Regions from separate parts of the Homo sapiens genome. Here region 1 is linked to region 2. Evidence: fine-mapped expression QTL. Tissue or cell type: whole blood. Region 2 holds a variant in brackets; the other region holds the start of a gene. All regions are shown on one strand. Distances are from middle to middle.

Region 1 (2,915 bases), 38 kb after region 2:
CTATAGGCAACAGACAGACAGTCACTATATTTTAAAGGTACCCTAACCTCCTTTTCTATAATATTTGAGGACATGAAGACGTGAGGAAGCTCTTGAAGGAAAGGATTTGTATATCCCCGGAAACAAGCACGGTGTGGTACATAGGAGGTCCTCAAGAAATGTCTGCTGAATTTTTCACATTTTCATCTTTTGTCTGTATACAATTTTGGAGACAAACCACAAAGGCCTTACACAAAACAGTTACGGAAAAAACAGATGGCCTGTGCAGAGGGGATTATTTTTCTGATTGCAGCTGTCACTTCAGGATTCAAGAGTATCGTAAAAGCTAAAAGGCACTTTAGACATCAGTAGTTATTACTAAATCGGGGAGGGAAGTATGAATTTCTACATCCCCTGGGCAGTTTTACAGAATGTAGTTCAGAGTTACCAGCAAGGTTGTTAGCATGCAAATTTCTGGGCCCTCATCAAGCCCACTGGATTGCCACTTCTGATGGCTGAGGCCCATAATCTGCATTAACGTAATACGCTCTCTAGATGAATTTTAGGTCCACTAATGGAGGACAACAGTCAAACGCAGCTCAGTTAAACACACGGCTGTCAGAAATTATATATTGCTTGTAACAAGGTTGCCCAGACTGATCTAAAACATTTCTTTTTGGCTCAGAGATATGTTAATCAATCCAGAGGGAAAACTGGTTCTCCTATTGACCTAAAGGAGTGATCAGCAGTTATCTTTTTAGTCTGATTTTAGAGAGGAAACGGACTATACCTCAATGTATTTTCGTGACCATGAGGTTACAAAGCTTGATGTCCAGGAGGCAAAAACCAGTACCAGCAGAAGAAGCTGAGTAAATCAGGTTCCTCTGCTCAAAGATGAGCCCAGTGACATGAAACCCGAGGCACCAGATTTACAGCTAATGAGTGGCGAAATCAGATCCTCTTCCTCCCAGTCTATCCTTCCTGAAAACAGTGAATAACCTGGTCTCAGTAACCTGTTGGACAACCCAGCTGTCGGCCAATCGTTGCGGAATTATTTGCTGGTAAATGAATTGGAAGCATATGATGTAATGCAGCTGCCCTTCTCCCCACACACCTGAACTTCAGATTTCACAGCTGTAGAGCGTGTCTCTTAGGCCCGACATGACGCCCGGCGGCGCAGCCCACGTGGAAGCCGTGCTCGCACAGGCAGTTCTGCCACCACCGGGCGGAGGCCGGCACCACCCTCCTTGCTAAGCCTCCAAACTTTCCGTGCGCTCGTCACCGGTGTCGCGACCATTAGCAGGCCACGTGTGCGACTCTCTGTAACCAAGGCTTCCGCGACCCTACCCCTAGATCCGGGCCCCACCCACCCTGCCCCAGTCTCCGGGGAGGTGGGACGCCTGGGAGCGCGTCCCAGGTCCCGCAACCACAGCGCCGGCCACCGAGGCTTCTCGCCGACCGACAGGTCTCCCAGACCCGCACCCGAGCCCGGGTGCCTAAAGCAGCAGCGCGCGCCCCGCGGGATCGGGCACTACCCGGCCTGCCCCGGCGCTGGGATGCCCACGAGAGCGCCCCACTCACCCGGCACGGCCTGTTGCTCGCGGCCGCGAGCCCACTGCGTTGCGGCGCAGCGGCTGGAGGCGGGGCAGCGTGGGCACGCTCCGGGCCGTGCTCCAGCCCCCGCCCCGCCCCGCCACGCCGGCCCGCAAGTGGTGGCAGCCCGGAGGCCTGGCTACCCGGCGGTGTTCCGCGTTCACGCCCGGGCGTTTCTTTAGTCCATATGGAAGGAAATAAATGGCCTTTTTTTTCCTCTTTTTTTTTTTTTTTTTTTTTTTTTTTTTTTTTTTATGGTATGTGAGACAAGGTCTCACTCTCGCCCAGGCTGGAGTGCAGTGGTAGCGATCTTGGCTCACTGCAACCTTTACCTCCCGGGCTCAAGCGATCCTCCTGCCTCGGCCTCCCAAAGTGCTGGATTATAGGTGTGAGCCACCCACCCGGCTCTCCTTTTTTTTCTTTTAACTTGGGGCGGCAGGAGAGGATTTGAGAGAGCGTTTTGGTGCAACTCCGTTCCTTTTATGAATAGAGAAGCAGGCCTGAAGAGGAATACCAGCGGTGCAAGTTTAGGGAGTTGGTGGTCCGGGTTCTCCCATGGCTTTCTTATGGGCTGTGTGGCTACACAATGCTGATTTGTACAAGCCGAGTGTCATTTATATCATCTCGCTCCGGGAGAGAGAGTCAATCCTAGTTTTAAAAGATACTGGAAATTCGTTGCGACTATGGCTATAGAAACAGAAGAAATGCAGTTATCTGAGTCCTTTCAGCCTAACACTCCCTGCTTTGGAACATTTGGTTCCAGTCAGGAGGCACAAATGAGGGAGCAGGGAAATCAGTGGCGGGCCTGTGCCTTTCTTTGCTCTGTAGACAGCCAGAGGACCCAGAGGAAGTCGACATTTCGTTCCGTCAAGGTGACTGAGACCAGTGGCTGCTTCTAAGGATCAAGTGGCACATGAACAAATGGGAACAAAGTACACCCTTGTCTAGTATTTGTCTAAAACTAACAATAATAGCAAGTCTTGAATTGAGTTCTTCCTGGCTATAAGGCACCACGCTAGGTGTTTCAAATACTCCTCACTTCATCCTCACTACAACCTTGCAATTACCTCCATTTTACAGTTGAGGAAACTGAGTCAGGAGAGGTTAACTAACTTGCACAAGATCACACAGCTAGGAAGATGCAGAAACAAGATTAGAGCCAAACCAGTCAGTCAACTGTTGGTCTTTTTCACGTTTTACTAATACTCGTATAACTAGTAAGTTTCCTGGCAGGTTCCAGTTGGAAAAACTCGAGGGTAACATCAAATTTAGCCCTTACAGGGTAAAAAAGAATAGTCAACAGCAAAAATCTCTAGTTGATATGATATTGGTAATGTACTTCG
Region 2 (2,915 bases):
AGTCTCTTAACATGGTGTCTTGCATACATTAATGAATGAAAAAGCAATACTGAGTCTATTCTTGTCTGACATGATGGGTTGAAGAAATACTTTTAATGCAGAAATCACCACCATTCTTGTGCATTTCAGCTTTTTTTAAATTAAAAATGCCTTTATTCTTCCTCCTAGGAATATTTTTAAGAGCTTACCACCACAGAGTCTTACATTCCTAGTGACTGCTCCTGTGACCTCCTAGAAATTAGGGTGCCATTCCATTCCATATTTATTCTGTTGCCAGCTAAAAGCATTGGCAGGACTAATTATGGTCCATATTACAGTACCACAAGACCTTAATCTGTGATTTGGAATCATGGGTCTCTTTATTATGGCTGTTTTTATTATGAGATTGATTGCTTTTCTGATAACTTGAATTTTAGTTTACAAAAAAGTGAACAAAAATTATTAATAAAATCTAATCTTTCCAGTGCAGTTTTGACTATAGCAACCTTAGAGAGTAAAACAGTAAACTCCATGCATTTAAGAATACAATGGATTCAGGGTACCCTGTGTTCAGACTGGGATGTCACTGAGATATGGCCACTCCTATGGTGACGCTTTCTTTTTCTGCTAATAGGTTTTTGAAGAACCCTCCATCAGCCTTTTTGCTCTGGAGCATTGTGAGGGAAGAGAGTTACATCTAGAAGAGGCTGTGAACTCTGTTCTGAACAAGGACCTACACTTCTACACCCAGTCTGTGTGGGTAAAAAGTGGACTGTAAGTATGGGAAAAAGGCTTGGTCTGGTTCAGTTACTGTTTTAAGACAGAGTTGCAGAGTTGCAAACCAAGTCCACTGTGTAGTAGTACGCATTCAAGTGGTCTTGAGGAAGAGCCCTTTGGAAGAGAAGGGCTACCATATGGTCACAGCATGTGTCATAGAGTAGGTCAATCAAATGACTTTACCCAGTTGAACTTTCTTTTCAGAAGAAATTTCAATATCCCAGCAACTTTGGTTAAGACAATTTCCTGCTTAAGGCAAGTGACTGCTGGCAAGACCAAGTTCGATGTTGTTTTTTGATTTAATAGCCATGTATTCTAGAGCAGTTCCTCCAGGGTACTCACTTGCCTGTGGACTACACTGGTTGGCCTAGCCTGCCTACCAGTATTGTTGTTCATTTAGGTTATCAGTCAGTCAGGGTAGACCCAGGGGCCTGTGCTTTTACAAATTAGAAAGCTGCCTTTAAGAAAAAATTTAAAATTATGATAGAAATATTAGATATCAATGTGAATACTTAGGACAGAAATGGTGAGAAGCCTGTAAGTGAGGGGCCTTGAAGTTGAAGCTCTGTTTGCTTCCTGGAAAATCTGCCTCTGAATCCAGTTCTGAAGAGTCCGGCATATAAACCAGCCCCTACTCCTGCACTGTTAGTGTTCTGGTAGCAAAAGTCAACTAAAAAAACACACATAGCTCTTGACGGTTAATAAAAAAATGGCTTTAAAAGTTTTTCTATGGCTTTGAAATTCCGTGATAATCAACTGTGCTGGTTTAAATATCTGGGGATAAAGAGAAAGCCAATAATATAAGTGGAGGTGAAAATTAAGCAAACTATTATAATAAATGGCTTTTATATTATACACTTGTA[TA/T]AATAGCTTAAGTTTTCTTCTGCAAAACATTTTAAATGGTTTGATGTTTATTCAGACAAATTGATTTATTCTATCTAAGCATAAGATTCCAATATATTATTTACCAATTAACTAAATTTTACATCCCTGTGATATAGGTCTTTCACAACATTTTAATTCATTTCTTCCCATTTCTGAGTGAAATTGATACTTGACTCACTTCTGAAAATTTCTCACTTTCTTATTTCATTTTTTTCTGGAACACTGGTGCCATTTTATCTTGACATTCTTATTTCTTCTCTTTGGCTTATTAGCCACCTACTCTCACTATTCCAAATTCTCTTTAAGAGAATTGGAACATGGAGTAAGGAACAGTGAAGGCTGCCTAAGGATTTTCCTAGGTTACAGAATACTACTTAATGTACAGCCAGCTTCCCTTAGTTACAAGTTGGGTTTGTTTTAATCCCCATGCTATGCCACATCTTTGATCTGTGATGATGACAGCCATGCTTAAATGCACCATCCCACACAGTTTTCCAACTGTGGAATTCATTTAAATCAATATATAATTAGGTACATTTTCCTAAAATCTTACCTAGATTTTATAACTGAAACTTCCCTGACAGTTTAAAGAATCTGCAGCGGGAGAGGCAGCTAAGCCTGTCCGTGGTCATGCTGACCTGCCTCTCCACCAGTCTGATTGATTAGATTTGTGTAGGAAGGAGGGGTCAAGAATGGGCCATCCATCTCATTCATCTCTCCATAATTTGGTCAAGTCTGATCTTGGTTGTGGGGAGCAAGGAGGACTTTTCTTAGTGGTGGTCAGGTTGAGTCAGTCATCCCTACCCAAGCTTTCATAGCTGTAATACATCAAGCTTTCCTCAGCTCTCCCCTTCTCCCCACAACTTATGCTCAAGTTGGTATCTTTTCCTGCATTACCTGAAGAACAAGTCCCTAAGGAATATTGCACTTTGTGAATTTTAGAAGTTTTTAATCTGGAAAATCGAGGGGCTGAAGTTGCTGCCATAGCAGCACAAGCAACCCTCTGTAGCTTGTGTCCTAAGCCCTGGATGACCCTGTTCCTGAGCTCTGGTCCATCTGATAAGCAGACTACCTTGCCTGCTGCTGGTGCTCTTTGCTTCATCCACAAGGCTTTACCTCCCTTGGTGCAAGCCAGGACAACCCCTGCCACAATTCCAGGTGCTTTATCAAAATAAAGCAAGGCAGCCATCTCATCCTGCACACACTTTCTTAAAGCACTGTGTACACTGACCTTGAGTCCTGCTGAGAATTTCAGGTGCTCTTAGTGACTCCAG

The links.
Region 1: RIOX2 starts here. The variant in region 2 is fine-mapped to the expression of RIOX2 in whole blood (INTERVAL, PIP 0.94).

The regions. Positions count from the first base shown.
Region 1 is chr3:97,970,821-97,973,735 of GRCh38, forward strand. It overlaps RIOX2 (ribosomal oxygenase 2), which reads right to left and starts at 1,611. Exons shown (of 10, transcript NM_153182.4): 1 at 1,561-1,611. It overlaps LOC124909398 (a long non-coding RNA gene), which reads left to right and starts at 1,833. Exons shown (of 2, transcript XR_007095976.1): 1 at 1,833-2,915. RefSeq lists an enhancer at 826-1,085 and a silencer at 1,356-1,795.
Region 2 is chr3:97,933,081-97,935,995 of GRCh38, forward strand. It overlaps CRYBG3 (crystallin beta-gamma domain containing 3), which reads left to right. Exons shown (of 22, transcript NM_153605.4): 18 at 614-753. Among named protein-coding and RNA genes, the nearest start is that of RIOX2, 38 kb to the right of the region's middle. The variant TA/T (reference allele first, on the strand shown) is at 1,620.